Homo sapiens: one gene and its partner. The protein of the gene in region 1 interacts with the protein of each later gene in a biochemical or structural test. Each region holds a gene or a part of one and is shown on either strand. Other genes may lie near its edges.

What was found.
Region 2: the proteins of ICAM3 (region 1) and ITGAD form a complex in vitro, tested with the Homo sapiens proteins (one study listed by BioGRID).

The regions. Positions count from the first base shown.
Region 1 is NC_000019.10:10,336,407-10,349,656, reverse strand, and holds the start of ICAM3 (intercellular adhesion molecule 3 isoform 1 precursor), read left to right. Parts: upstream 1-10,032; 5' UTR 10,033-10,042; coding exon 10,043-10,118; intron 10,119-10,411; exon of another isoform or gene 10,412-10,708; coding exon 10,709-10,975; intron 10,976-13,250. UniProt on the Homo sapiens protein: ICAM proteins are ligands for the leukocyte adhesion protein LFA-1 (integrin alpha-L/beta-2). ICAM3 is also a ligand for integrin alpha-D/beta-2. In association with integrin alpha-L/beta-2, contributes to apoptotic neutrophil phagocytosis by macrophages.
Region 2 is NC_000016.10:31,413,197-31,429,466, forward strand, and holds the end of ITGAD (integrin alpha-D isoform 2 precursor), read left to right. Parts: coding exon 1-50; intron 51-1,254; coding exon 1,255-1,409; coding exon of another isoform or gene 1,410-1,491; intron 1,492-1,663; coding exon 1,664-1,795; intron 1,796-2,901; coding exon of another isoform or gene 2,902-2,955; exon of another isoform or gene 2,956-2,987; intron 2,988-3,016; coding exon 3,017-3,090; intron 3,091-3,308; coding exon 3,309-3,450; intron 3,451-4,878; coding exon 4,879-4,995; intron 4,996-5,104; coding exon 5,105-5,184; intron 5,185-5,284; coding exon 5,285-5,368; coding exon of another isoform or gene 5,369-5,419; intron 5,420-9,917; coding exon 9,918-9,996; intron 9,997-10,155; coding exon 10,156-10,263; intron 10,264-10,374; coding exon 10,375-10,452; intron 10,453-10,648; coding exon 10,649-10,762; intron 10,763-10,905; coding exon 10,906-11,007; intron 11,008-11,270; coding exon 11,271-11,381; intron 11,382-12,214; exon of another isoform or gene 12,215-12,372; intron 12,373-12,818; coding exon 12,819-12,932; 3' UTR 12,933-13,309; downstream 13,310-16,270. Other genes in the region: COX6A2 (cytochrome c oxidase subunit 6A2, mitochondrial precursor), read right to left, coding at 14,578-14,661, 14,819-14,955, 15,057-15,129.

The DNA of each region.
Region 1 (13,250 bases):
AGGAGGCGGAGATTGCAGTGAGCCGAGATTGCACCACTGCACTCCAGCCTGGGTGACAGAGAAAGACTCTGTCTCAAAAAAATAATAATTAAATAAATAAATATACAATATTATTGTTGACTGGATGCAGTGGCTCATTGCTTGTAACCCCAGCACTTTGGGAGGCTGAGGCAGGAGGATCCCTTGAGTCCAGGAGTTCGAGACCAGCCTGGGCAACATAGGGAGATCCTGTCCGTATTTTTATTTATTTATTTATTTGTTTATTTATTTTTGAGGCAGTTTCACTGTTCTCCAGGCTGGAGTGCAATGGTGCTATCTCGGCTCACTGCAACCTCCCCCTCCTGAGTTCAAGCGATTATCCTGCCTCAGCCTCCGGAGTAGCTGGGATTACAGGCGCACGCCACCACACTCGGCTAATTTTGTATTTTTAGTAGAGACGGGGTTACATCTTGTTGGTCAGGCTGCTCTCAAACTCCTGACCTCAGGTGATCTGCCCGCCTCGGCCTCCCAAAGTGTTGGGATTACAGGCGTGAGCCACTACACCTAGCCTATATTATTTTAAAATAAAAATTTTAAAAATGAAGTTGGCTGGATAGAGTGGCTCACGCCTGTAATCCCAGCACAGCACTTTGAAAGGCCAAGGCGGGCGGATCAGTTGAGGTCAGGAGTTTGAGACCAGCCTGCCCAACATGGCAAAACCCTTGTCTACTAAAAATACAAAAATTAGCTGGGCATTGTGGTAGGCGTCTGTAATCCCAGCTACTTGGGAGGCTGAGGCAGGAGAATCACTTGAACCCAGGAGGCAGAGGTTGCCATGAGCCAAGATCAAGCCATTGCACTCCAGCCTGGGTGACAAGAGCAAAACTCTGTCTCAAAAAAAAATAAAAAAAGACACATGCACACGTATGTTTATTGCGGCACTATTCACAATAGCAAAGACTTGGAACCAACCCAAATGTCCATCAATGATAGACTGGATTAAGAAAATGTGGCACATATACACCATGGAATACTATGCAGCTATAAAATAGGATGAGTTCATATCTTTTGCAGGGACACGAATGAAGCTGGAAACCATCATTCTCAGCAAACTATCACAAGGACAGAAAACCAAACACCGCATGTTCTCATTCATAGGTGGGAACTGAACAATGAGAACACTTGGACACATGGCAGGGAACAACACACACCCACACCGGGGTCTGTTGTGGGGTAGGGGCCTGCGGGAGGGATAGCATTAGGAGAAATACCTAATGTAGATGATGAGTTAATGGGTGCAGCAAACCAACATGGCACATGTATACCTATGTAACAAACCACATTGTGCACATGTACCCTGGAACTTAAAAAAAAAAAAAAAAAAAAGGAGTCTGAAACCATGAACAATCATCGTTATTTACCAAGTTTGTTCTTGTTGAGGAAAAAAATACAAAAATTAGCCAGGTGTGGTGGCACACACCTGTAATCTCAGCTACTCTAGAGGCTGAGGCAGGAGAATTGCTTGAACTGGAAGGCAGAGTGCATTGAGCTGAGATCGCACCACTGCACTCCAGCCTGGGCGATAGAGCAAGACTGTCTGAAAAAAGAAAAGAAAAAGGTATTATTGTTATTCTGGTGTTTGGCAAAGCGTTTCTACTTAGCCTGTGTGACTTGAGATGGTGGGTCAGACACATTTGTGAAAGGCAGTTAAATATCCCCAGAAGGACTTCTTTTGTGGGGCTGGGGACTGGGTCTCGCTCTGTCACCCACACTGGAGTACAGTGGTGCTATTATAGCCCATGGCAACCTTGACCTCCCAGGCGCAAGTGATCCTCCCACCTCAGCCTCTGTAGGAGCTGGGACTATAGGCTCCTGCCACGTCACCTGGCTAATTTTTTTTTTTTTTTTTTTTTTTTTTTGAGAGGGAGTCTCACTATGTCACCCAGGCTGGAGTGCAATGGTACGGTCTAGGCTCAGTGCGACCTCCACCTCCAGGGTTCAAGCGATTCTCCTGCTTCAGCCTCCCCAGTAGCTGGGATTACAGGCGCCCGCCACCACGCCTGGCTGATTTTTGTATTTTTAGTTGAGACAGGATTTCACCATGTTGGCCAGGCTGGTCTCGAACTCCTGACCTCAGGTGATCCACCCACCTCAGCCTCCGAAAGTGCTGGGATTACAGGTGTGAGCCACCATGCCTGGCCATCTGGCTAATTTTAAAATTTTTTGTAGACACAGCGTCTTACTCTGCTGCCCAGCCTGGTCTCAAACTCCTGGGCTCAAGTGATCCTCCCACCTTAGCCTCTTGAGTAGTAGGATAACCACTCAATTTGTTTAGAGCAGTTTTAGGTTTACAGCAAAGTTGAGTGGAAAATACAGAGTTCTCCTATATCCCCTCCCTCCCATCCCCCTGCACAACCTCCCTTGCTGACCTATCCTGTACCACAGTGATACATGTGTTAGAATCTATGAACCTCGGTGACTCATGCCTGTAATTCCAGCACTTTGGGAGGTCAGGAGTTCGAGACCAGCCTGGGCAACATGGTGAAACCCCATCTCTACTAAAAATACAAAAACTAGCCAGGCATGGTGGCAGGCACCTGTACTCCCAGCTACTTAGGAGGCTGAGGCAAGAGAATTGCTTGAACCCAGGAGGTGGTGGTGGAGGTTGCAGTGAGCCAAGATCATGCCACTGCACTCCAGCCTGAGCGGCAGAGCAAGACTCTGTCTGAAAAAAAAAATCTATGAACCTCCACTGACATATCATTTTCTCCTGAGGTCTGTACTTTACATGAGGGTTCACTCTTGCTGTTGTACGTTCTGTGGGGCTGGACAAACGTATAAGGCATGAACCCACCAATATAGTATCACATGGAGTAGTTTCACTGCGCTAAACGTCATTCATGCGCTGCCTGTTCATCCCTCTCTTCTCACTAACCCCTGGCAACTGCTGATCTGTTATTTACTGTCCCCATAGTTTTGAAACAGAGTCTTGCTCTGTCATCCAGGCTGGAGTGCAGTGGCGCAATCTCTGCTCACTACAACCTCCGCCTCCCACGCTTAAGCTAATTTCTGTATTTTTTGTAGAGGCGAAGTTTCTCCATGTTACCCAGGTTGATGAAGTCCCGGGCTTAAATGATCCCTCTACCTCAGCCTCCCAAAGTGCTGGGCTTTCAGGTATGAGCCACCACACCCGCCCAATAGATCATTTATTTTTAGTTCTGAATAAAAAAATAAAAATACAAACAAGGTCCCCAATTGCGTTTGGTTGAGGCCAGTTTTCTGTAAGTCTCTTTTAGTTCTGAAAAAATAAAATAAATAAAAATACAGGGCCGGGCACAGTGACTCACGCCTGTAATCCCAGCACTTTGGGAGGCCAAGGCAGGCGGATCACCTGAGGTCAGGAGTTCAAGACCAACATGGCCAACATGGCAAAACCCCATCTCTACTAAAAATACAAAAATTAGCCGGATGCGGTGGCGTGTGCCTGTAATCCCAGCTACTCAGGAGGCTGAGGCAGGAGAATCACTTAAACCCAGGAGGCGGAGGTTGCAGTGAGCTGAGATTGTGCCATTGCACTCCAGTCTGGGCAACAAGAGTGAAACTCCATCTCAAAAAATAAAATAAAATAAAAAATAAAAATAAATAAAAATACAAACAAAGTCCCCAATTGCATTTGCTCGAGGCCAGTTTTCTTACGTCTCTTTTGGTCTGTGGGTTCCTCTTTCTGTCTTTTGCCCCCTTGCAACATATTTGTGGATGAAACTAGGTTGTTTGTCTTGTTGACTTTTTTTTTTGAGATGGAGCCTTGCTCTGTCGCCCAGGCTGGAGTGCAGTGGCACGATGTCGGCTCACTGCAACCTCTGCCTCCTGGGTCCAAGTGATTCTCCTGCCTCAGCCTCCTGAGTAGCTGGGATTACAGGCGTGGGGCCAGTACGCCTGGCTAATTTTTGTATTTTTAGTAGAGATGGGGTTTCGCCATGTTGGCCAGGCTGGTCTCGAACTCCTAACCTCAGGTGATCTGCTCGCCTCAGCCTCCCAAAGTGCTGGAATTACAGTCATGAGCCACTGCGCCTGTCATGTTTTCTTCTTTTTCTGCATTGCTATTAAAAATTTTGGCTGGGGCCGGGCGCAGTAGCTCATGCCTGTAATCCCAACTCTTTGGGAGGCCAAGGTGGGTGAATCACCTGAGGTCAGGAGTTAAAGACCAGCCTGGCCAACATGGTGAAACCCCTGTCTCTACTAAAAATACAAAAATTAGCTGGGTGTGGTGGCGGGCGCCTGTTATCTCAGCTACTTGGGTGGCTGAGGCAGGAGAATCACTTGAACCTGGGAGGTGGAGGTTGTAGTGAGCCGAGATCGTGCCACCGCACTCCAGCCTGGGCGACAGAGCAAGACTTAATCTCAAAAAAAAAAAAAGAAAAGAAAAAATTGTTTCCTCATAATCGTAAAGCTGTTATACTCACTGCAGGCACAGCTAGTACATTTTGCTCAACCCCACAGGCTCCGTTCCCTTTACGAGGTATTTATTTATTTATTTATTTTTATTTTTGCGACGGAGTCTCTCTCCTCTGTCATCCTGGCTGGAGTGCAGTGGCATGATCTCGGCTCACTGCAACCTCGGCCTCCAGGGCTCAGTCGGTTCTTGGGCCTCAGTCTTCCAAGTAGCTGTAAGTACAGGCATGCGCCACCACGTCCGGTGAATTTTTTGTATTTTTAGTTGCCATGTTGGCCAGGCTTTTACTAGCTATTTATAATATGCTTGAGTCACTCACAGGAATGAAATACTGTCAGCATCAATAGTTAGCAGCTCTTTCAAAATACATTTTATTGCCTCTATAAGAAACCTTAACTATTCTATTAGTCCAGTAATTCCAAATGGTCTTATTATTTCTTGGGTTTTGTTTGTTTGTTTGTTTGTTTTTGAGACGTTGTTTCTCTCTTGTTGCCCAAGCTGGAGTGCAATGGTGTGACCTCGGCTCACTGCAAACTCCTCCAAGGTTCAAGTGATTCTCCGGCCTCAGCCTCCTGAGTAGCTGGGATTACAGGCACGAGCCACCATGTCTGGCTAATTTTTTGTATTTTTAGTAGAGACTGGGTTTCCTCATGTTAGTCAGGCTGGTCTCGAACTCCTGACCTCAGGTGATCCATCCGCTTCAGCCTCCCAAAGTCCTGGGATTATAGGCATGAGCCACCGCACCTGGCTCGTCTTATTATTTCTATACATAATATATGCTCTTTTGGCTGGGCGTGGTAGCTCAAGCCTGGTGGCAGACGCCTGTAATCCCAGCTACTTGGGAGGCTGAGGCAGGAGAATCGCTTGGACCTGGAAGGCAGAGGTTGCAGTGAGCCAAGACTGAACCACCTCACTCCAGCCTGGGCAACAGAGTGAGAACCCATCTCAAAAAATACTGATAATAATAAGATCATCTTCAGAACTCAGTTCCTGGTGCATGAAGAGATTCAATACAGCCCCCTCACTCTCAGTTCTTAGAAAGAAGAATATGCCAGCCTGACCAACATGGTGAAACCCCCGTCTCTAATAAAAATACAAAAATTAGCTGGGTGTGGTGGCGCACGCCTGTGATCCCAGCTACTCAGGAGGCTGAGGCAGGAGAATCGCTTGAACCTGGGAGGTGGAGATTGCAGTGAGCCCAGCCTGGGAGACAGAGCAAGACTCATTCTCAAAAAAAAAAAAAGAAGAAGAATATGAAAGAGATAGGATCAATAACTACCTTCATTGTTTAATAGCCTAAGAGTGAAAGCCCAGCACAGTGGCTCACCCCTGTAATAATCCCAGCACTTTGGGAGGTTGAGTTGGGAGGATCACTTGAGCCCAGGGGTTCGAGAACAGCCTGGGCAATATGTCAAAAGCTCCTCTGTAGAAAAAATACAAAAATTAGCCGAGTGTAGTGGCACACACCTATAGTCCCAGCTACTAGGGAGGCTGAGGTGGGAGGATCACCTGAGCCTGGGAGGTCAAGGTTGCAGTGAGCCATGATTATGTCACTGCATTCCAGCCTGGGAGACAGAGCCAGACCCTGTCTCAGGAAGAAGAAGAAAAAAAAAAAAGCCAAATCTTTTTATCCCAGGATGTCTGAAAAGGACAGAGTCTATGGAGCATGGATGCAGAAAAGTAGTTATTCCTACCAGAAAAAAAAAAAATGAAATGTGGACACAGCCACTCAAGATCAGAGACTCAACCAGTGAAAGCAATTAGCTTCAATTTCATTGTCACCAGGAGGGCGCACACCAGAGAACCTGGGAGAAAGCCTGGGCTAGAGCCCTTAGCATTCTCAGTGTTACTGGTGCTGTGGTTCAACAACCTTTGTGGGAATGAGGAGAACCAGAGACCATCACCATCACACGTAAAAAGGATCCTATAGCAACAATGTGGCTGTCAAAAATCAGCTGGAGGCCAGGCGCGGTGGCTCACGCCTGTAATCCTAGCACTTTGGGAGGCCGAGGCGGGCGGATCACCTGAGGTCAGGAGTTTGAGACTAGCCTGGTCAACATGGTGAAACCCCGTCTCTACTAAAAATGCAAAAAATTAGCTGGGTGTGGTGGTGCATGCCTGTAATCCCAGCTACTTGGGAAGTTGAGGCGGGAGAATCACTTGAACCTGGGAGGCAGAGGTTGCAGTGAGCCCAGACTATGCCACTGCACTCCAGCCTGGGTGACAGACTGAGACCCTGTCTCAAAAAAAAAAAAAAAATCAGCTGGAGCTTAAATTATACATTGTTTGCAATCCAGACTGTACTTGCTTTCTTGTCAATGGCTTGAGATATGTGCAGAGGCCCCTTAAACATGTGTAGGTGACCTTTCTCTGTCGCCCAGGCTGGAGTGCAGGGGCACAATCTCAGCTAACTGCAACCTCCACTTCCCGGGCTCAAGCAATCCTCCCGCTGCAGCCTCCTGAGTAGCTGGGACTACAGGTGTGTGCCATCAAGCTTGGCTGATTTTTTTGTACTTTTTTTTTTTTTTTCGAGATGGAGTCTCGCTCTGTCGCCCAGGCTGGAGTGCAGTGGCGCAATCTCAGCTCACTGCAAGCTCTGCCTCCCGGGTTCACACTATTCTCCTGCCTCAGCCTCCCAAGTAGCTGGTACTACAGGCGCCCGCCACCATGCCCAGCTAATTTTTGTATTTTTTTTAGTAGAGACGGGGTTTCACCGTGTTAGCCAGGATGGTCTCGATCTCCTGACCTCGTGATCCGCCCGCCTCGGCCTCCCAAAGTGCTGGGATTACAGGCGTGAGCCACTGCACCTGGCCGATTTTTTGTATTTTTAGTAGAGACAGGGTTTTGGCATGCTGCCCAGGCTGGTCTGGAACTCCCGACCTCAAGGGATCCGCCTGTCTAGGCCTCCCAAAGTGTTAAGATTACAGGTGTGAGCCACCACGCCTGGCCCAGAAATACTCTTTTTTTTTTTTTTTGAGATGGAGTCTCACTCTGTTGCCCAGCCTGGATGGAGTGCAGTGGCGCGATCTCGGCTCACTGCAAGCTCCGCCTTCTGGGTTCACGCCATTCTCCTGCCTCAGCCTCCCGAGTAGCTGGGACTACAGGCACCTGCCACCATTTTTTTTTGTATTTTTAGTAGAGACGGGGCTAATTTTTTTTTGTATTTTTAGTAGAGATGGGGTTTCACCGTGTTAACCAGGATGGTCTCGATCTCCTTACCTCGTGATCTGCCCGCCTCAGCCTCCCAAAGTGCTAGGATTACAGGCGTGAGCTACCACACCTGGCCCAGAAATACTTCTTTATCAGAAATATTACTGGCGGGTGTAGCAGGGCACGCCTATAATCCCAGCACTTTGGGAGGTCGAGGCAGGCAGATCCCTTAAGCTTAGGAGTTCAAGACCAACCTGGGCAATATGGTGAAAGCCGTCTCTACAGAAAATTAGCCAGGCACAGTGGTGTGTACCTGTGGTCTCAGCTCCTAGGGAGGCTGAGGTGGGAGGATCACTTGAACCCAGGAGGCTGAGATTGCAGTTAGCTGAGATTGTGCCCCTGCACTCCAGCCTAGGCGACACGGTGAGACTCTGTTTCAAAAAACAAAAAAGAAATATGACTTATTTACAAATATTTCTTTCTTTTTTATTTTTAGAGACAGGGTCTCACTATTACGTAAGTATTATAAATTATATATATATGTTTGTTTGTTTGTTTGTTTTTCTGAGACAGAGTCTTGCTCTGTCACCCAGGCTGGAGTGCAGCGGCACAATCTCCACTCACTGCAACCTCCGCCTCTTGGGTTCAAGTGATTCTCCTGCCTCAGCCTCCTGAGTAACTGGGACTACAGGTGCCCGCCACAATGCCCAGCTAATTTTTTATATTTTTGGTGGAGATGGGGTTTCACTGTGTTAGCCAGGATGGTCTCGATTTCCTGACCTCGTCATCCACCTACCTCAGCCTCCCAAAGTGCTGCTAGGATTACAGACGTGAGCCAGTAAGTCCGACATCTTTTTTTTTTTTTTTTTTTTTTGTGGAAACAGGGTCTCACTGTGTCTCCCAGGCTGGAGTGCAGGGGCACAATCTCGACTCACTGCAGCTTTGACCTCCCAGGCTCAAGCGATCCTCTCACCTCAGCCTTCCAAGGAGCTGGGACTACAGGCACCAGGCCCATGCTACTGGTCCCTGCTGTTTACAAATACACTAGACTTGGGTTTTAGCTGCTCTCTCAACACCAGGTGGGAAATGGATTGTTCGGAAGGTAGAGGAATAGAGGAGGGACCTGCTTAGGAAGGTGGGGGTGCTCTAGATGAGAGAGGAGGTGCTGTGACCTCAAGGTCTGGGGAAAGTGGGTGAGTGCAGGGCCCCATCAAGGCTCTCAACAAGGCCTCTCTCTCTGGAGCTCAGATGTGAAGCCCAGAAGGCAGGTCAGAGGCCTGAGGTCAGAGGCAGGTCAAAGGTGGGGGTCCCACCTGGTCCCCTTGGCGCCTTCCCTTGGAATGCAGTGACCAGCTGCCTGGAAGGGTGGGCAAGGGGACAACAGGATGGGGTAAAGGCCAGTTACAAGTAGAATCCTGGAAGGCCGGGCGCAGTGGCTCACGCCTGTAATCCCAACACTTTGGGAGGCCAAGGCGGGCAGCTCACTTGAGGTCAGAAGTTTGAGACCAGCTTGGCCAACATGGTGAAACCCCGTCTCTACCAAAAAGTACAAAAATTAGCCGGGCGTGGTGGCACATGCCTGTAATCCCAGCTACTCGGGAGGCTGAGGCAGGAAAATCGTTTGAACCCGGGAGGCAGAGGCTGCAGTGAGCCGAGATCCCGCCACTGCACTCCAACCTGGGTGACAGAGTGAGACTCTGTCTCAAAACAAACAAACAAAAACCAAGTAGAATCCTGGATAGACAGTGGCTCAGGGACTCAGCTGTCCCCAAATCACCTACCTTAGCTCTTTGTGCAGGGGATGGGGGATCCCCAAGATCTTCAAAGATAGGGAGGTATCCTCAAGATCTTCAAAGGTGGCCAGGCGTGGTGGCTCACGCCTGTAATCGCAACACTTTGGGAGGTCAAGATGAGAGGAGGCCATCTTAAGGCCAGGAGTTCAAGACCAGTCGGGGCAACATAGCAAGACTCTGCTTCTGTTTCTGTTTTTGTTTTTGTTTTTTAATGTTTCCTCGAAATCCCACCTTAACATCTACACAATGGTGCCTACAGTTTTCCCCATTAACTTCCTCTCTGGGGACAGAATATTCCCCTACCCACCTAAGTTCAGCCAGAAGGAGATGCCTCATCCCCCCCACCCAGGCTTCCCAGTGCTGAGAACAAAAGAAACCAGTTTAGTTAGCATTTCCTGTGAATTCAAATGGGGGCCAGCAGTGCAACTGGGACCAGCCCATTCCCTGGGGGAGACTCAGCAGTGCTGGCCACTTTGCAGAGCCCCGTCTGGGTCCCCCACCCTGGCCCCCAAGGGCCACAGCATCCCCTTCCACCCACAGGCCTGGGCAAGGTGCAGTCCCCAGACTTCTGCAATCTTAACCGCTGTGCTTCCGTCGCAGTGGGAGGCCCCGCCTTTTCCCCTGCCTGCCCTTCGGGCACCTCAGGAAGGCACCTTCCTCTGTCAGAATGGCCACCATGGTACCATCCGTGTTGTGGCCCAGGGCCTGCTGGACTCTGCTGGTCTGCTGTCTGCTGACCCCAGGTGAGACCAGTCAAGCCGGGGAGGGCTGGAGAGGGCTGCGTTTTGGGGATCAGTAGAGGGTAGAGGAATAGAACGCAACGCTGTTCACATCCTGCCACACTGCGACCTGGCCGCTGACTCTGTATCCTCGGGAGAAAGTTCTGGTTCCTTAGTTCAGCCTTCAGGTGGTCAGGCCCCAGCATAGGCTTGTACGCCATCCCTCTCCCCTAACACACACACACACACCCCTCATGCTTCCTGCTCCATCTGAACTCCTGAAATTTGCCCTTTGCGTATGTGCTTCCCTCTGCCAGGATCACCTGTCCCTTTCACTTGCTAACTCCTACTTAGCCTTCAGTTTCGGGCTGCAATGGTCCCCGCTTCCAGGAAGCCTTCCCTGACTCACCTCCTCCTATGCTGGATCAGAGCCTCTTCTGGCCTCCTTCTGAGTTCTCCCCGGTCTCTGATGGATTCTACCTTTCCCACTGGACCATGAAGGCAGGAACCCTTCTGTCTCGGCACAAGGAGAGAGGTGTTAAATGGTGGGGCCTGTTGATGCGTGGGTTGGGGGACAAGGAAACAAACACCAGGACTTCTTCATGTTCCTGAAGGTGTCCAGGGGCAGGAGTTCCTTTTGCGGGTGGAGCCCCAGAACCCTGTGCTCTCTGCTGGAGGGTCCCTGTTTGTGAACTGCAGTACTGATTGTCCCAGCTCTGAGAAAATCGCCTTGGAGACGTCCCTATCAAAGGAGCTGGTGGCCAGTGGCATGGGCTGGGCAGCCTTCAATCTCAGCAACGTGACTGGCAACAGTCGGATCCTCTGCTCAGTGTACTGCAATGGCTCTCAGATAACAGGCTCCTCTAACATCACCGTGTACAGTGAGTCGACGTGTCCGGAGGTGGGACTGGTCTTGGGTAGTGGTGTGGGCAAGTGGCCAATGGCTCAGGAGAGTGGGGACCCTCAGTTTGCAAAGAATGGACCACAGTTCTGACCCAGAGCTCAGACCTGGACATTTGTGTGTGAGATACAAAGATAGACAGAGACAGAGACACAGAGACAGAGACAGAGATATAGAGACGCATCTCAATCTCATGCCAAGGCAGCAGTTGTGAAATCAATTAACTTGGGCCCCAACAAGCATTTTTTTTTTTTTTTTGAGACAGAGTTTCGCTCTTTTTGCCTAGGCTGGAGTGCAGTGGCACGATGTCGGCTCACTGCAACCTTCGCCTCCTGGGTTCAAGTGATTCTCCTGCCTCAGCCTCCCGAGTGGCTGAGATTACACATGCACGCCACCACACCCAGCAAATTTTGTATTTTTAGTTGAGATGGCATTTCACCATGTTGGCCAGTCTGGTCTTGAACTCCTGACCTCAGGCGATCCGCCCACCTCAGCCTCCCAAAGTGCTGGGATTACAGGCATGGGCCACTGCGCCCGGCCCCAACAAGCTTTTTTTTTTTTTTGAGATGGCGTCTCTTACTCTGTAGCCCAGGCTGGAGTGCAGTGGTGCAATCTCGGCTCACTGCGACCTCTGCCTCCCAGGTCCAGCTAATGCCCAGCTAAGTTTTGTATTTTTAGTAGAGACGGGGTGTTCCGCCCACATCAGCCTCTCAAAGTGCTGGGATTACAAGTGTGAGCCACTGCGCCTGGCCCCAACAATAATCCCAACACTTTGGGAGGCCAAGGCAGGAGGATTGCTTGAGTCCGGAAATTTAAGACCAGGCAGAGCAATATAGGGACACCCCGTCTCTACAAAAATAAATAAAAAATATTAGCTGGGCATGGTGGCACATGCCTGAAGTCCCAGCTACTTGGGGGACCAAGGTGGGAGAATCGCTTGAGCCCAGGAGTTCAAGGCTGTAGTGAGCTATAATTGCACCACTGCACTCCAGCCTGTGCAAAAAAGCAAGACCCTTGTCTCTTAAGCAAAAAAGGGGGTACCCCTTTCAGTCAGCAGTAGGCAAATGGAGGTTTTACATTTACACTTTTTTATACCTTTATTTTAGAGACAGGATCTCCCTATGTTGCCTAGGTTGGTCTCAAACTCCTGGGCTCAGGCAATCCTCCCACTTCAGTCTCTCCAGTAGCTGGGATTGCAGGCCTGGCTACTTTTTTTTTTCTTTTCTTTTCTTTTTTTTTTTTTTTGAGACAGAGTCTCACTCTGTCCCCCAGGCTAGAGTGCAGTGGCGCAATCTTGGCTCACTGCAACCTCTGCCTTCCGGGTTCAAGCGATTCTCCTGCCTCAGCCTCCTGAGTAGCTGGGATTACAGGCGCATGCCAACACGCCCAGCTAATTTTTGTATTTTTAGTAGGGACAGGATTTCACCATGTTGCCCAGGCTGGTCTCAAACTCCTGGCCTCAAATGATCTGCCCGCCTTGGCCTCCCAAAGTGCTGGGATTATAAGCGTGAGCCACCATGCCTGGCCTACTTTTTGACTTTTCTTTTCTTTGAGACGCAGTCTTGCTATTGTCCCCCATGCTGGAGTACAATGGCGCGATGTCAGCTCATTGCAACCTCCGCCTCCTGGGTTCAAGTGATTCTCCTGTCTTAGCCTCCTTAGTAGCTGGGATTACAGGCGTGTGACACCATGCCCGGCTAATTTTTGTATTTTTAGTAGAGACAGGGTTTTGCCATATGGGCCAGGTTGGTCTCAAACTCCTGACCTCAAGTGATCCGCCTCCCTCGGCCTCCCAAAGTGGTGGGATTACAGGCATGAGTCACCTTGCCCAGCCTTTTTTTTTTTTTTTTTTTTTTTGACATAGAGTCTCTCTCTGTCGCCAGGCTGGAGTGCAGTGGCACTATCTCAGCTCACTGCAAATTTTGCCTCCTGGGTTCAAGCGATTCTTGTGCCTCAGCCTCCTGAGTAGCTGGGATTACAGGCACGTGCTACCATGCCTGGCTAATTTTTGTATTTTTAGTAGAGATGGGGTTTCACCATGTTGGCAAGGCTGGTCTTGAACTCCTGGTCTCAGGTGATCCGTCCACCTTGGCCTCCCAAAGTGCTGGGATTACAGGCATGAGCCACAGTGCCCGGCCTGAGGCCCAGCGTTTTGTAGGTGTACTGGGGAGGGCACCCAGCCTGGGAGTGTCAAGTCTCCTGTGACTGTGCCGGAGTATCTTGAGAGGCTGCCACAGGGCTGGTGAACCAGGAAA
Region 2 (16,270 bases), on another chromosome or scaffold:
GGACGCCACCGTCTGTCTCACCATCCAGAAAAGCTCACTGGACCAGCTAGGTGTGTTTCCCCCATAAAGGGGGCCCAGGCCCCTCATTCCATTAGGGGCCCCAATGCCATCCTGAGGATGGGATGGGCCTAGGAATCCAATCTTACCTCCACATTCACTCACCACCTGTGCCAGAAACCTGGCTCATTCTCTCCCCTCTTCCTCACACCTGGGCCTGTGGATTCTGTCTCCAGGGCTGACCTGAAGTCCACCCAGTTCTCTCCTGGGCCCCAGCCACTGCCTTCCCCCAGCCCCTGATTCCCTTCCACCTACACCAAAGTCATGACATGAAGCAGTTCCCACATCTCTTCTTGCACCCTCCCACCCATTTTCCACAGAGGAACTAGAGTCGACTGGTCCTAAAATGCAAATCTGGGCTCCTCACTCCCCTGCGTAACCCGCCTTGCATTTACAAAGACTCCAGTCCTTCCCTCCAGTGCCCTCTCTGACTTGGCCTCCTGGCCTCTCTGACCTCATAGCATCCCACTCCTCCTTACTAGGCACGCTTTTCGTAAATGCACCAGCTTTGCTCTCCCTTCTGGTCTTAGGCCCTGTTCCCATGGTCCCGGATGTTCTCCCCACTCCTCACCTGGCTCCTGCTCATTCTCCAGGTGGCTGCTTAGCCATGGTCCATCCGGGATGGCAGCCTGGCCAGGTCCAGCAAGCATGCTCTCCTTAGAACCACAGGAGAGCCTCCCCTCGCACTGATCACGCTGCAACATCACGTCCCATGTGCTTGGCTTCTTTCTTAGATTGTGAGGTTCATGAGAGTGGGGGCCATATCTATCTAGCTAGCTAATCTATCATCTATCTGCCAAATCTGTCATCTATCTATTATCTATTAATCTAATCACCTATCTAATCTATCATCTATCTACCAATCTATCACCTATTATCTATCATCTATCACCTATCTAATCTATCCTCTACCAAATCTATCATCTATTATCTATCATCTGTCTATCTAATCTGTCACCTATTTAATCTATCATCTATTTATCTATTATCTAGCCATCCATCCATCCATCCATCCATCCATCCATCCATCCATCATCTATCCGTCCATCTATCTTCTTCACATGTATCCCCAGCACGTGGTACAGTTCATGGCCCATAGCAGTGTCCAGCAAACATGTATTGCATGAACAAATAATGAAAACAGAGCATTCTAGGTTATTTCTGCCTTTTCATTTTGCACTCTCCCCTGCACTTCAGGTGACATCCAAAGCTCTGTCAGGTTTGATCTGGCACTGGACCCAGGTCGTCTGACTTCTCGTGCCATTTTCAATGAAACCAAGAACCCCACTTTGACTCGAAGAAAAACCCTGGGACTGGGGATTCACTGTGAAACCCTGAAGCTGCTTTTGCCAGTGAGGACTTTGGGTTCTGGGAAGGGGGAGAGAGGAGGAGCCCAAGGCTGGCCTGGAGCACCCCCGTTCTCTGCTGAGCGAGGTGGGAAGGGTTAGGATGTTGGGGCTGGAGAGAGGGACATTAGGGCAGGAGAACCTGGCTCCACGGCTTGGAGGGAGCACTGTCAGGGCAGTGGGGAGTGGATGCAGTGGAGGAGGACTTGTGGTGGAGCGTAGAGAGGACAGCAGGTTCTTGAAAGCCTGTTCTCTCTCAGGATTGTGTGGAGGATGTGGTGAGCCCCATCATTCTGCACCTCAACTTCTCACTGGTGAGAGAGCCCATCCCCTCCCCCCAGAACCTGCGTCCTGTGCTGGCCGTGGGCTCACAAGACCTCTTCACTGCTTCTGTGAGTCTTCTGATGAAGTCCCAGGGATGTGCTGACTTCATTTTGTCTCCATGAGCTTAAGAATCCACTGTAGCTCCCCAACACCCAACCACATCCAGTCCAGAAACCTGACTCCAGTCTCTCCCTTCCTCCTCACACCCAGGCCTGTGGGTTCTGTCTCCAGGACTGACATGAAGTCCACCCATTTCTCCTCCTGGTCCCAGCTGCTGCCTTCCCCCAGCCCCTCGATTCTCTCCCACCTACACCAGAGTTGACACGAAATGGTTCCCATATCTATTGTTGTATCCTCCCACCCATTTTCCATAGAGGAGCTAGAGTCGACTGGTCCTAAAATGCAAATCTAGGCTCTTCACTCCCCTGCGTAATCCCCCTTGCATTTACAAAGATCCCAGTCCTTCCCTCTGATGTCCTCTCTGACTTGGCCTCCTGGCCTCTCTGGCTTCACGGCATCCCACTCGCCCTTACTAGGCACGCTTTTCATAAATGCGCCAGCCTCGCTCTCCCTTCTGGTCTTAGGCCCTTCTCCCACCTCCATCCACACACCCAGGAACTGTACACATCCTAGGCAGTTCCCACTTTTCCCTAGCACAGACTCTCTTGTTCATTCCCAGATCCCTCCCAAGTTTCCTCATTCCTACCTCTGTGCCTTTGTCCCTGTTTCGCCCCTCACTTGGAAAACAGTGCCTTCTGCCTTCTCTCCCCGTTTTCCCCCGAAGCTCCAGCCTTACCTCCCTCTCTTCTGAAGGCCACACTCAGCATCTGCCGCTCCTTCTCTGGTCCCTGTTACACCAAGGTGGTGCCACAGCAGATATCACATGGCTGTTATAACCATCTGCATCTACATTTGAGGCTGTCTTGGGACTGTAGTTTCTTTGAGCATAGGAACCATGTCGAATTTGCCTGTCATTTCCACCTTCCCCCAGCCCTCGCCCAACCCAGAACCTGCACAATTATTGGCACTTAATAATGTTTGTGGAATAATTGTTCCAGGATAAGCTGGATGTAACTCAACTGAACTTTATGTCCCTTGAAGCCAAGGATCTTGTCTTATCTTTCTTTTATATGCCAACCTCCAAACCGCACCTGCGCCCCTTGTTGGTGTCCAGCAAAGTGCTGGGGGCAGTGGCTTAGTAATGCTCAATGTTGGAGAGTGCTTCTAAGGAGGGGCTTGGAGAAAGACTAAGATGTCAGATGGGAACAGAATATACTATTTTGCTGCAGCTCCCCTTCGAGAAGAACTGTGGGCAAGATGGCCTCTGTGAAGGGGACCTGGGTGTCACCCTCAGCTTCTCAGGGTGAGCTGTAACTCCCTTCATATCCAGACACTCAGGCTTCTGAGTCCCCCATCCTCCTGGGATGCTTGTGCTGCTCTCTGGCTCTTTCTAACAAAAGTGATGTTCACTGGATTGTTATTGGCCCAGAGCTCCAGAGTTCCTGGGATTCTGCCCTGCCCTTCCCAGTTCCCACCTATTTCCAGTGGAGCGCCACTCCCAGCCTCGTCCTTCCCCTTCAGCCTGCAGACCCTGACCGTGGGGAGCTCCCTGGAGCTCAACGTGATTGTGACTGTGTGGAACGCAGGTGAGGATTCCTACGGAACCGTGGTCAGCCTCTACTATCCAGCAGGGCTGTCGCACCGACGGGTGTCAGGAGCCCAGGTAACAACTGCTGTAGGCTCTAGTGGGAGGGGGCCTCTCCCCTGCCCTGTAGCCCCGGGAGTTACACAGTGTTCTTCAAAATTGTTCTGTGATGATATGTGCTCTCTCTCTCTCTCTCACACACACACACATACACACAGAGAAAGTGCATAAAGCATACATACGGTTTAATGAATAATATTAAACAAACCATAGAGTTAACATCCAGATCAAGAAATAAATCACTGCTAGCATCCCCAGAACCCCCTCCCTGTTTACCTTTCCCCATCACAGCTCCATCCTGTCCCCAAAGGTCATCACTATTCTGACTTTGTGGTCATTTCCTTGTATCTCTCTCTCTCTCTCCTTCCCCCCTCCCTCCCCCCTCCCTCCCTCCCTTACTTCCTCCCTCCCTCCCTCCCTCCCTCTTTTTTTTGAGACTGAGTCTTACTCTGTCACCCAGGCTGGAGTGCAGTGGCACAATCACCACTCACTGCAGCCTAGACCTCTTGGGCTCAAGCAATCCTCCCACGTCAGCCTCCCAAGTAGCTGGGACTACAGGTGCATGCCACTACGCCCAGCTAATATTTATTTATTTATTTATTTATTTATTTATTTATTTATTTATTTTTTAGAGACAGGGTCTCACCATGCTGCCCAGGCTGGTCTCAAACTCCTGGGCTCAAGTAATCCTCCCACCTCAGCCCTTAAAGTGCTGAGATTACAGGTGTGAACCACCACACCTGACCATATTGTTTCTGTGTGTGGGTCTTATTTAAGAAACACTTCCAGGTTATGAAAATAGCCCCCTATATTATATTCCAAAAGCTTCATGGTTTTGCTTTTTCACATTTAAGTATTTAATCCAGTTGGAATTTATTTTAATTTATGGAGTGAGGTAGGGATCCAATTTCTTTTTCTTCTTTCTCCTCCTCTTCCTCTTGTACTTTCTTTACTTTTCTTCTGCTTTTTAAAAAATTTTTTGTATGGGTCAATTTTCCTGGCATTGATGGAAATTGATTGAAAAGTCTGTCCTTGGCCGGGTGCAGTGGCTCACACCTGTAATCCCAGCACTTTGGGAGGCCAAGGCGGGTGGATCACCTGAGGTCAGGAGTTTGAGACTGGCCTGGCCAACATGGTGAAACCCCATTTCTACTGAAAATACAAAAATATTAGCCAGGCATGGTGGCAGGCACCTGTAATCCCAGCTACTCAAGAGCCTGTGGCAGGGGAATTGCTTGAACCCAGGAGGTGGAGGTTGCAGTGAACCACGATCATGCCATTGCACTCCAGCCTGGGTGACAAGAGTGAAATCCGTCTCAAAAAAAAACAACAACAAAAAAAGAAAAGTCTGTCATTTTCCCTAGTGCTCTGCAGTGCCACCACTGCTGTGTATCAAGCCCACACATGCATGCGGGTAACTTCTTAAAATTCATTCTCCTCCCCTAGAAGCAGCCCCATCAGAGTGCCCTGCGCCTGGCATGTGAGACAGTGCCCACTGAGGATGAGGGCCTAAGAAGCAGCCGCTGCAGTGTCAACCACCCCATCTTCCATGAGGGCTCTAACGTCAGTGCTTCTCCCTAAATCCCCATCACTGTCCTCCCTTGTCCCAATCTGTCCCTCACTCTGCCATGCCCTTCCTTTTATCCCCATTCTTTCCTTCTTCTTCCCTCAGGGCACCTTCATAGTCACATTCGATGTCTCCTACAAGGCCACCCTGGGAGACAGGATGCTTATGAGGGCCAGTGCAAGCAGGTGGGTCCAGGCCAGGGTATCCCCCACCCTCCATCGCATGCCCCGGCTAGAGACCCCTCTCCTGGATTCCTTCCCATTGGTCCCTCCTTTCTGTCTCCAGTGAGAACAATAAGGCTTCAAGCAGCAAGGCCACCTTCCAGCTGGAGCTCCCGGTGAAGTATGCAGTCTACACCATGATCAGCAGGTGCCCAGTCCCTGGCCTTCCCCTTGGACCTCTGGCCTTCCTCTATGCCTGGTACTCCTTCTGAGTCCCAGCCTGCTCTTCCAATGATGCACATCTAAGCTCTCCTGTTTTGGGATGCCTTTGTGGGTGAATGGCCATATATAATGACATTTATGCTGCATAAAGATGTTTCTGGGCTGGGCGCGGTACCTCGCGCCTGTAACCCCAGCACTTTGGGAGGCTGAGGCAGGTGGTTCACCTGAGGTCAGGAGTTCGAGACCAGCTTGGCCAACATGGTGAAACCCCATCTCTACTAAAAATACAAAATAAATTAGCTGGGCGTGGTCATGCGTGCCTGTAATCCCAGCTACTTGGGAGGCTGACGCAGGAGAATCACTTGAATCCGGGAGGCGGAGGTTGCAGTGAGCCGAGATCATGCCACTGCACTCCAGCCTGGGTGACAGAGGGAGACTCTGTCTCAAAAAAAAAAAAAAAAAAAATTAGCTGGGCCTGGTGGCGCATGCCTGTAATCCCAGCTACTCAGGAGGCTAAGGCAGGAGAATCTCTTGAACCTGGGAGGCGGAGGTTGCAGTGAGCTGAGATTGTGCCACTGCACTCCAGCCTGGGCAATAGAGCAAGATTCTGTCTCAAACAAAAAAAAAAAAAAAAGGTGTTTTTGTCAACAGTGGACCCACATTTACTACGGGTGGTCTCCTAAAATTATAACGGAGTTGAAAAATCTCCTAATGATGTCATAGCAGTTGTAACATTGTAGTGCAACTCATTGCCTTTTTTATGTCTAGATACACAAATACTTTCCATTGTGTTACAATTGCCTACAATATCCAGTACAGTAACACGCTGCATGGGTTTGTAGCCCAGGAGCAATAGGCTATACCATATCACCTAGCTGTGCAGTAGGCTCTACCATCTAGGTTTGCATAAGTGCAACCTATGATGTTTGCACAATGATGAAATTGCCTAAGGCCGGGCGCAGTGGCTCACACCTGTAATCCCAGCACTTTGGGAGGCTGAGGCAGGCGGATCACCTGAGGTCAGGAGTTCAAGACCAGCCTGGCCAACATGGCGAAACCTTGTCTTTACTAAAAACGCAAACATTAGCCAGGCGCAGTGGCACACGCCTGTAATCCCAGCTACTGGGGAGGTTAAGGCAAGAGAATCGCTTGAACTTGGGAGGCGGAGATTGCGGTGAGCTGAGATCGCGCTGCTGCATGCCAGCTCAGGGGTGACAGATTAAGGCTCTGTCTCAAAAAAAAAAAAAAAAAAAGAAAAAAAAAGAAAAGAAAAAGAAATTGCCTAACGATTAATTTCTTGGAATGTATCCTTGGTGTATTTGTACCCTAATAATATATACCATAGCTCTTGCTGCTTCTCTCAAATCGACTTGCTGGTGGGACACACACACATTGCCACCACTGTGCCTTTCCCCCTCTCCCTCTAAAAGGAAGGCTTCCTTTTTTAACATGAAACAAATTCTGTCCTTTGTATTAAATGTGAATGTGCTGAAGCAAAGCTGCTACATGGAGATCAAGGCTTTTCTGAGCACCCTGAATTGGGGAGCTTGTGCCCAACAGGATATGGTCTGTCACCACACAGAGGAAAGGAAAGGTCAGGTTTCTATAAAACTCAGAGTGGGGCAGAGGTGTGAGAAACTGTTGGGAAGGTCTCTTAAGAGCCTGGCCAAGGCAGCGCAGGAAAGGCAAGTGTAGGGCTGAAGGCAAGAGGGTTCTGCAGGTGGTGGAGGCACAGGGGCAGGCGAGGCTGGATGCAGAGCAAGGCATCCCATACACTGGGCTGAAAGACTGTAACACTGCTGTGGGACAAAGTTTGCTGCTATTGCTTTTTTTTTTTTAGACGGAATCTCACTCTTTCACCCAGGCTGGAGTTCAGTGGTGCAATCTGGGCTCACTGCAACCTCCACCTCCCAGGTTCAAGTGATTCTCCTGCCTCAGCCTCCCGAGTAGTTGGATTACAGGCATGCACAACCACATCTAGCTAATTTTTTGTTTGTTTGTTTGTTTGTTTTTGAGATGGAGTTTCACTCTTGTTGCCCAGGCTGGAGTGCAATGTTGCGATCTCAGCTCACTGAAATCTCCGCCTCCCAGGTTCAAGTGATTCTCCTGCCTCAGCCTCTCGAGTAGCTGGGACTACAGGCATGTGCCACCATGCCTGGCTAGTTTTGTATTTTTAGTAGAGACAGGGTTTCACCATGTTGGTTAGGCTGGTCTTGAACTCGTGACCTCAGGTGATCCACCCCCACCCGAGGGCCTCCCAAAGTGCTGGGATTACAGGCATGAGCCACCACACCTGTCCACTGTTGCTTCTGATGTATTAAGTTGTTAGGGGAAGGAGCGAGGGAGATCAAGCAGTGTCATTGTCCTTTCAAGCCACATGTAGGTTTCCCTTTCTATCCACAGGAAAATACTTACAATAAGAGCTTACAGTTATATATACCCATGTCAGGCACGTTTTATGTTGCTGTTGTTTTATGGTGGTTTTCTTACACCATCTTAAGTACTTTATATGTATTTACATTTATTTAATCCTACCAATAATTATATTGTTATCCCTATTTTCACCAACAAAGACATCAAGAAGTGAAATACTTTGTTCCTGTCAATCTCCAAGTGGGCAGCAGAACCAGGAATCAGACCCAGACGGTTTGGCTGCAGAGCCCATGCCCATGGCCATACATGGCATGCCTCTCCAAGGACTGGGGAAAGCTGGGTGGTTTACTTAGATCTGAAAACAGGCTTAGGCTGCGCACGGTGGCTCGTGCCTGTAATCCCAGCACTTTGGGAGGCCAAGTGCTGGGATTACAGGCATGAGTGGGAGGATGGCTTGAGCCCAGGAGTTTAAGACCAGCCTGGGCAACATAGTGAGAACCCATCTCTACCAAAAAAAAAAAATTAAAAATGAAAATAAAATAAAACTTTAAAAATGAAAAGAGGTTTAGAACTAGATTTTAAGATGAGAAAACAGAAGCATAGAGAGAAGGGTTTGGGGTGGGGGGCACAGAGGAAAACCGGCATACTTAGGGAAAAATAAACCTTAAGATTTATGGAGGAGTCCCTGTGTGCTGGGCACTACCAAGCCCTGGTCACAACTCTACTACAGGGAGGTTGCTACGGTTTGCATCCCCATTTTAAAGAGTGAAAAGCTACAGTTTCCAGAGACGTGAAGTGGCTTGCCTCAGTGACTCAGGTAGGAAGTGGTCGACCTGAGATGTGAACCTAGGCGGTTTGACACTGGAGCCCATGTTTTTAGTCATCAGGCTGATGGGGGGTGGACTGCTGGGGCTGTTTCTGTGTGGCTGGTCTGGCTGCTGCATGCGAGGTGCAGGCCCCTCTGCTGGTCTGCTTACTTTTGCTTTTTGTTTGTTTTGAGACAGGGTCTCACTCTGTCACCCAGGCTGGAGGGGAGTGGTGTGAACATAGCTTACTGCAGCCTCGACCTCCCAGGCTCAAGCAATCCTCCTGCCTCAGCCTCCTGAGTAGCTGGGACCACAGGCGTGTGCCACCACTTGCAGCTAATGTTTGTATTTTTTTTTTTTTTTGCAGAGACGAGGTCTCTCTGTGTTGCCCAGGCCAGTCTTGAACTCCTGGGCTCAAGCGATTCTTCTGCCTTAGTCTCTCTAAGTGTTGGGATTACAGGCGTGAGCCACCTCGCCTGGCCAGCTTGCTCATTTTTACTAAAACTTTAGATGTTAAGTGGTGAGAGGGCAGGGAGTTATGGCTTAACTTGAATCCCCAGTGCCAACCACACAGCCTGTGTTTGCTGAAGGAAGTTTGGGTGGAAAGACCCCACCTGCTGCCTGGAACACTGATGTCCCTTCCACAGGCTTGTGCACAGGCACTATCTTCCTTCACATTTACTCACCTGCCCCAGGACAGCCGAATCTATTTTCTTCATTCCCACCATGAAGGGGCCCTCACTCCATGTCTTCCTGAGTGATCCAGCTCTCATTCCTAGAGTCCCCTTAGGCTAACTTGTTCTGCTACAATCTCTGTAAGCATTACCAGAGGCCAAACACTACCTATTAGAGAAAGCAATGCAAACGCCTTTGCCCCATGTAGGAGACATGAGGTTTAAGTTGGGTCTTTAAGTGTAAATTTCCAAAACTGGAGACAGTAAGAACGTTCCAAGGAGAAGAGCTTGAGCAAAGTCATGAGGCTATGAAAGAGCCAGCGGTGTGCATGGCAGAGCTAGTGGATCTGGGTGATGGGGGCAAGGGACATCGGAGGGAGGGGAGCTGAAGCCGAGGCAGCAAAGGTTATGTGGGACCATCTTTTACTTATTTACTTTGAATAGGGACAGGGTCTCACGATGTTGCCCCAGCTGGTCTGGAACTCCTGGGTTCAAGAAACCCTCCTGCCCCAGCCTCCCAAAGTGCTGGGATTACAGGCATGAGCCACTGTGCCCGGCCAAATAATGTCCATCGTTATTTCCCTGAGACATCTGCCCAGCCCAACAGAGCTCTCTGCAGTAGGACAGGGCACAACTGGGGACAGTTTCAGGGCTGTTTTTCACCCACAGGCTCTCTCTCCAGGCAGGAAGAATCCACCAAGTACTTCAACTTTGCAACCTCCGATGAGAAGAAAATGAAAGAGGCTGAGCATCGATACCGTGTGAGAGTCTAGGGAGTATCCATGTCTGCCTTCCACGTTGTGGATAAAGTTGGAAGTTGGTGGAGAAGATGGAGAGGAGCCTTGGGGTAGGGCCAGGAGGGAAGTAGGATTTGGAAGGCTCCAGAGACCACAATAACACTCTGCCTTGATTTCCTGCAGGTGAATAACCTCAGCCAGCGAGATCTGGCCATCAGCATTAACTTCTGGGTTCCTGTCCTGCTGAACGGGGTGGCTGTGTGGGATGTGGTCATGGAGGCCCCATCTCAGGTACCCGCCTATCTCTCCTCTTTCTTCAGACTGACATCCCACAGCACAGCACTCCCTCTTACCAGGGACATGTTGCTCATTCTGTGGCTAAGTGCTTCTTTCTCTTCCCAGAGTCTCCCCTGTGTTTCAGAGAGAAAACCTCCCCAGCATTCTGACTTCCTGACCCAGATTTCAAGAAGTCCCATGCTGGTGAGAAAGTCCCTGAACCCCCACCGCCAAGATCAGCCCCCACCGGGGATACTGGGAAATGTACTGCTAGGCCACAGAGTTCCGTGCATGTCCTGTAACTGCTCATCTGTTCCCCACCCCAAACCTGACCATATTTTTTCCTATGGCTCCCTCCTCAGGGAAGAACCCCTCAGTTTCACCCCTCTTCTGCCCCCAGGACTGCTCCATTGCTGACTGCCTGCAGTTCCGCTGTGACGTCCCCTCCTTCAGCGTCCAGGAGGAGCTGGATTTCACCCTGAAGGGCAATCTCAGTTTCGGCTGGGTCCGCGAGGTGTGTGGGGGCAGCGGCAGAGCCCCTGCCCCAGACTCAGGCAGGACCTGGCATGTCTGTGCCCATCTGCAAGCCAGGGCACCCCCGAAGCTCTGAGCCTCCCCCAGAGCCAGTTCCACAGGTTTCCCCCAACCCCTTTGCAGACATTGCAGAAGAAGGTGTTGGTCGTGAGTGTGGCTGAAATTACGTTCGACACATCCGTGTACTCCCAGCTTCCAGGACAGGAGGCATTTATGAGAGCTCAGGTAGAGACCATGTGGAGGGCAGCGACCAGCTGGAAAGAGGACCCCTAGGGCTACATCTGTGGTGCTGGGTGGGGGGTTTGCAAGCCTTGCGGGAGGAGGGTGAAAGTCTCTGGGCAGGACAGCTGTCCCTAAGGGCACGGGTGCTACTGTGTCTCACTCCTTGGAGCAGAGCCTCAGAAAGGAGGGGAGAGAGTTAAAGGTTGCGGAACCTGGGAGGCATCTGGGATGGCATGAGGCCGGATGCTCTCTGATCTCTAAATCAGATGGAGATGGTGCTAGAAGAAGACGAGGTCTACAATGCCATTCCCATCATCATGGGCAGCTCTGTGGGGGCTCTGCTACTGCTGGCGCTCATCACAGCCACACTGTACAAGGCAAGTGTTTTATCCAACTCTTTTTTTTTTTTTTTTGAGATGGAGTTTCCACTCTTACTGCCCAGGCTGGAGTGCAATGGCATGATCTTGGCTCACTGCAACCTCCACCTCCCGGGTTCAAGTGATTCTCCTGTCTCAGCCTCCCGAGTAGCTGGGATTACAGGTGGACTGCACCATGCCCGGCTAGTTTTTTGTATTTTTAGTAGAGATGGAGTTTCATCATGTTGGCCAGGCTGGTCTCGAACTCCTGACTTCAGGTGATCCGCCCACCTTGGCCTCCCAAAGTTCTGGGATTACAGGTGTGAGCCACCTCATCCGGCCTTATCCCATTCTTGACACCACCAGCATCCAACCCAAGCCCTCCTACAGACTGGCTGATATAGTGAGAACTCAGACTGTGGAGGCAGACAGGCCTGGACACACATTTTGGCTCTATCATGTACTCACTGTTTAATGTTAGGCAAGTTGCTCCACCTCTCTAAGCCTGTTTCTCTCTTTCTTTTTTTTCTTTTGAGATGGAGTCTCACTCAGTTGCCTAGGCTGGGGTGCAGTGGCACAATCTCAGCTCACTGCAACCTCCACCTCCTAGGTTCAAAAGATTCTCATGCCTCAGCTTCCCAAGTAGCTAGGACTACAGGCACACACCACCACACCTGGCTATTTTTTGTATTTTTAGTAGAGAGAGGTTTCACCATGTTGGTCAGATTGGTCTCAAACTCCTGACCTCATGTGATCCGCCCACCTCGGCCTCCCAAACTGCTGGGTTTACAGGCATGAGCCACTGTGCCCGGCCGTTTCTCATTTTTGAAATGATAATAATGCTTATATCACAGAGTGGCTGAAGTGAGAGAGAAATGAGGCCAGGGCATGTGCACAGATCTGCCTGGATCTATGCTGTCCTGCCACGGGTCGTGTGTGTACCTACTGTGCTCGGGGCCAGCAGATGCTCGATATATGATAGCTGTTCACATAAATGTTCTCGCACACAAACGTAAGTTAGCTTAGTTGTTGCCTCCTCTTCTCTCTCAGCTTCCTCTTATTCCCAATTTTCTTCCCTGCCCTCTTACCCAGCTTTTCTTTCTTTTCTTTCTCTTTTCTTTTTCTTCTTCTTCTTTTTTTTTTTTACATGGAGTCTTGCTGTCTTGCCCAGGCTGGAGTGCAGTGGCATGATCTTGGCTCACGGCAACCTCTGCCTCCCGGGTTCAAGCGATTCTCTTGCCTCAGCCTCCTGAGTAGCTGGGATTACAGGCGCACCACCACACCCAGCTAATTTTTGTATTTTTAGTAGAGACGGGGTTTCACCATGTTGGCCAGGCTGGTCTCCAGCTCCTGACCTCAGGTGATCCACCCTCCTCAGCTTCCCACAGTGCTGAGATTACAGGTGTGAGCCACCGGGCCCGGACTTACCCAGCTTTTCTAATTTATTTCCCCTGATAGCTTGGCTTCTTCAAACGCCACTACAAGGAAATGCTGGAGGACAAGCCTGAAGACACTGCCACATTCAGTGGGGACGATTTCAGCTGTGTGGCCCCAAATGTGCCTTTGTCCTAATAATCCACTTTCCTGTTTATCTCTACCACTGTGGGCTGGACTTGCTTGCAACCATAAATCAACTTACATGGAAACAACTTCTGCATAGATCTGCACTGGCCTAAGCAACCTACCAGGTGCTAAGCACCTTCTCGGAGAGATAGAGATTGTAATGTTTTTACATATCTGTCCATCTTTTTCAGCAATGACCCACTTTTTACAGAAGCAGGCATGGTGCCAGCATAAATTTTCATATGCTTAAGAATTGTCACATGAAATGAGGATGTTTATAGCACACTTTCCTTGCGTGGAAGAGCTATAACCCAGGGACCTGAGTGCCTCTCTGGGAATAGTCGGGGGAACCTATTTGTGGGCATTGAAAAAGTTTTTTCACTTTCTATGGTGATGGGAGCCTGAGGTCATCTTTTCTTGATGGGGCTGAGAGGTGTGTATCAGGGGAGAGGGTCAAAGAGTGTGTGTGTGTGTGTGTGTGTGTGTGTGTGTGCATGTGCATGCACGTGCACGCAGGCATGCATTGGTCATGGGTTTCTTCACACACTTCAGGTTCCTCTGTAATGGTAAGTGGGCAGGCTGTCCTAGGAGGTGAAGAAATGTCCAGAGCTCATTTGAACTCCTGTCCCCCTTGAATGAGGTACTCAGAAGCCAGGAGAGCCAGGCTAGGAGCATGTGATTTCCCATATAGAAGACTCATTAAGAAAGATTATAGGCCGGGCGCGGTGGCTCACGCCTGTAATCCCAGCACTTTGGGAGGCCGAGGCGGGTGGATCATGAGGTCAGGAGATCGAGACCATCCTGGCTAACAAGGTGAAACCCCGTCTCTACTAAAAATACAAAAAATTAGCCGGGCGCGGTGGCGGGCGCCTGTAGTCCCAGCTACTCAGGAGGCTGAGGCAGGAGAATGGCGTGAACCCGGGAAGCGGAGCTTGCAGTGAGCCGAGATTGCACCACTGCAGTCCGCAGTCCGGCCTGGGCGACAGAGCGAGACTCCGTCTCAAAAAAAAAAAAAAAAAAAGAAAGAAAGATTATAGAGAATTATCAAAAGATTCCAAATCCAGCATTAGGTCCCAAGGCCTCACACACAGGACTGTGGAGCCTCCGTCTGAAATCCAGAGAGCTGGGATTCACAGACACCAGCAGCTCAGGTGTCAGGCAAGAAGTGGGACTTCAGGATCTGCAGCCCTGGGCTCCCATGGGGGCTCTGCCGAGCTGCCGGAACTTGGACAAGTCATTTAATTCCCAAGAATCTCAGGTCTTCCTCGGGAGAAGGTGAACTAAATTTATACCCTGCTCCCAGCGTTACTGTGAGGATTCGGTGTACGCGGAAGCCCATTACAGCCTAGAGCCCTAATTATTAATAGGTGTGTGTGAGAGGGAGGCCTCATTATTACCAGGTGAGAGACAGGGAGCTGGGATCGCCTACCTGTGAGTGGAGGAGGCTCCCTCGAGCACCTCCGTATCAGCGGCGTGGGAAAAGCACGTGGAGCGCCCACCGCGCTAGGCGCATGCGCGGAGCAGGAGCGCTTACCAAGCTGGGCGCATGCGCGGAGCGGGCGCCTCTGGGCGCGCTCCCCGTGGCCCCGCCCTCCCCACAGAGCCGCAGACTCGAAGCTTCACACCTTTATTGTGTCCGGGGGCGTCCGGGGCCTCAGGGGTGTTCGTAGCCCGTGGGCAGAGGGTTCACGTGGCTATTGTGGAACAGAGTGTGGTTGCCGTCCCCCCAGGGGTAGGGCTGTGGAGAGAGCGGGGGAGGGAGCGCGCGTGAGCGCCGTGAGTCCGGAGTCCGCGCCCCGCGCGACCCCCCCCCCGCAGCACCCCCCCCCGCCCCCGCAGCACCCCCCCCCGCCCCCGCAGCACCCCCGTGCCGCCCGCGCGCCCGTCCCGCGTACCTTGGTGCGGATGCGGAGGTGTTGGTAGGGACGGAACTCGGGGCGCGGGCGGTGGCCCGAGTGGAGATAGGAGTTGAAGGTGCAGAGGGCCACGCTGGGCAGCGCCAGCACGAAGGTCAGCAGACGCCAGGTACGAGCTGCGGACGGAGCGGGGTGAGCGCGGCGGTCCTGGGGCGGCGGGCCTGTGAACAGGTGGGCAGGGTAGGGGAGCCCCCGGATCCGCCCGTTCCCCACTCACCTCCTGCTCCTCCGTGGCCTCCTTTGGCAGCGCTGGCCAAGCCCCGGGTCAGGGGCCTCAGAGGCAAAGCCATGATGGTGCGGGGAGCCGGGAACCAGCGCTGTCCTCGCTCCCTTTCCTGGGGCCTGGGGTCACCTCCCCTCTCTGGGCCAATCACCTGTTGAGTCTGGAGCACTGGCGGCTATTCTTAGGGGTTTCTATATTTAAAATGGGGCCTGACTGGCTTGAGGTCATCTCCAGACAGCTGTTGTCCTGTGCCTCTTATTTTGGCAAGGAGGCATTTAAGTACAATATGCCATTCTTTTTATATAGTTGCAGGGAAACTATTTTGTTCCCTATTCTATGCCTGGTGGCTGGCACACAGTTGGGCTTTAATAAATATTTGTAGAATGAATTAAGTGTCTTTTTGAGTCTCAGTGTTTTCAGCTGTAAAATGTATAATAATTCGTACCTTAAAAGATTTTTTAAATACTGGAGACGGGGATCTCACTATATTGTCCAGGCTGGTGTGGAACTCTTGAGCTCACGTGATCCTCCCGCCTCAGCCTCCCACAGTGCTGGGATTACAGGCATGAGCCACTACACGGCCCTTACATCATTTTTATGAAGTTTATGTAAGGTAGGAATGTGTCAACCTGGATTTTGGCAGGTAACAGTAGTTCAGTATATGTATTAGTCACAGTTCTTTGCAAAGAACAGAACTCACTCTTACTAGTTTTAGAAGATAAGTAATTGAGAATCTTAGGTAGCTTACTATGTCTGATATAGCCAGAGATGCCTACAGTCTGCACAGTCATAAACAAGTCATTCCGTTGGCCAGCTGCAGTGACACCCCCACAGCTCACACTGCTGGACCCTGGATGCCAAAAGCTTCATTAAGGCTGCCCTGGAAAACCAGAATTTTCCACCCTCATCCCCTCTTGAAAACAGATTCTTCATGAAACCTGTATCCTGGGTCGCTCTTTTCTGAAAGAATTATGTGATTGCACCAACTGGCAACCCCTAGGTCCCCCAGCTGCAGGAGGGGATGGGAAACTGAGCTCTGGATTCTGCCTTAGGGAGGCAGGAATTGTAGGGAAAATCTCCAGGTCTAGGATGAGTATTCAAAAGGTTCCAGGCAGCCACAAGCCTGACAGGTGTCTACTGCAAAGTGCATTATTTCAATCTGAAAAATATGACTACTTGGAGAAAGCAAGCCTAGACAGGGCTGGTGT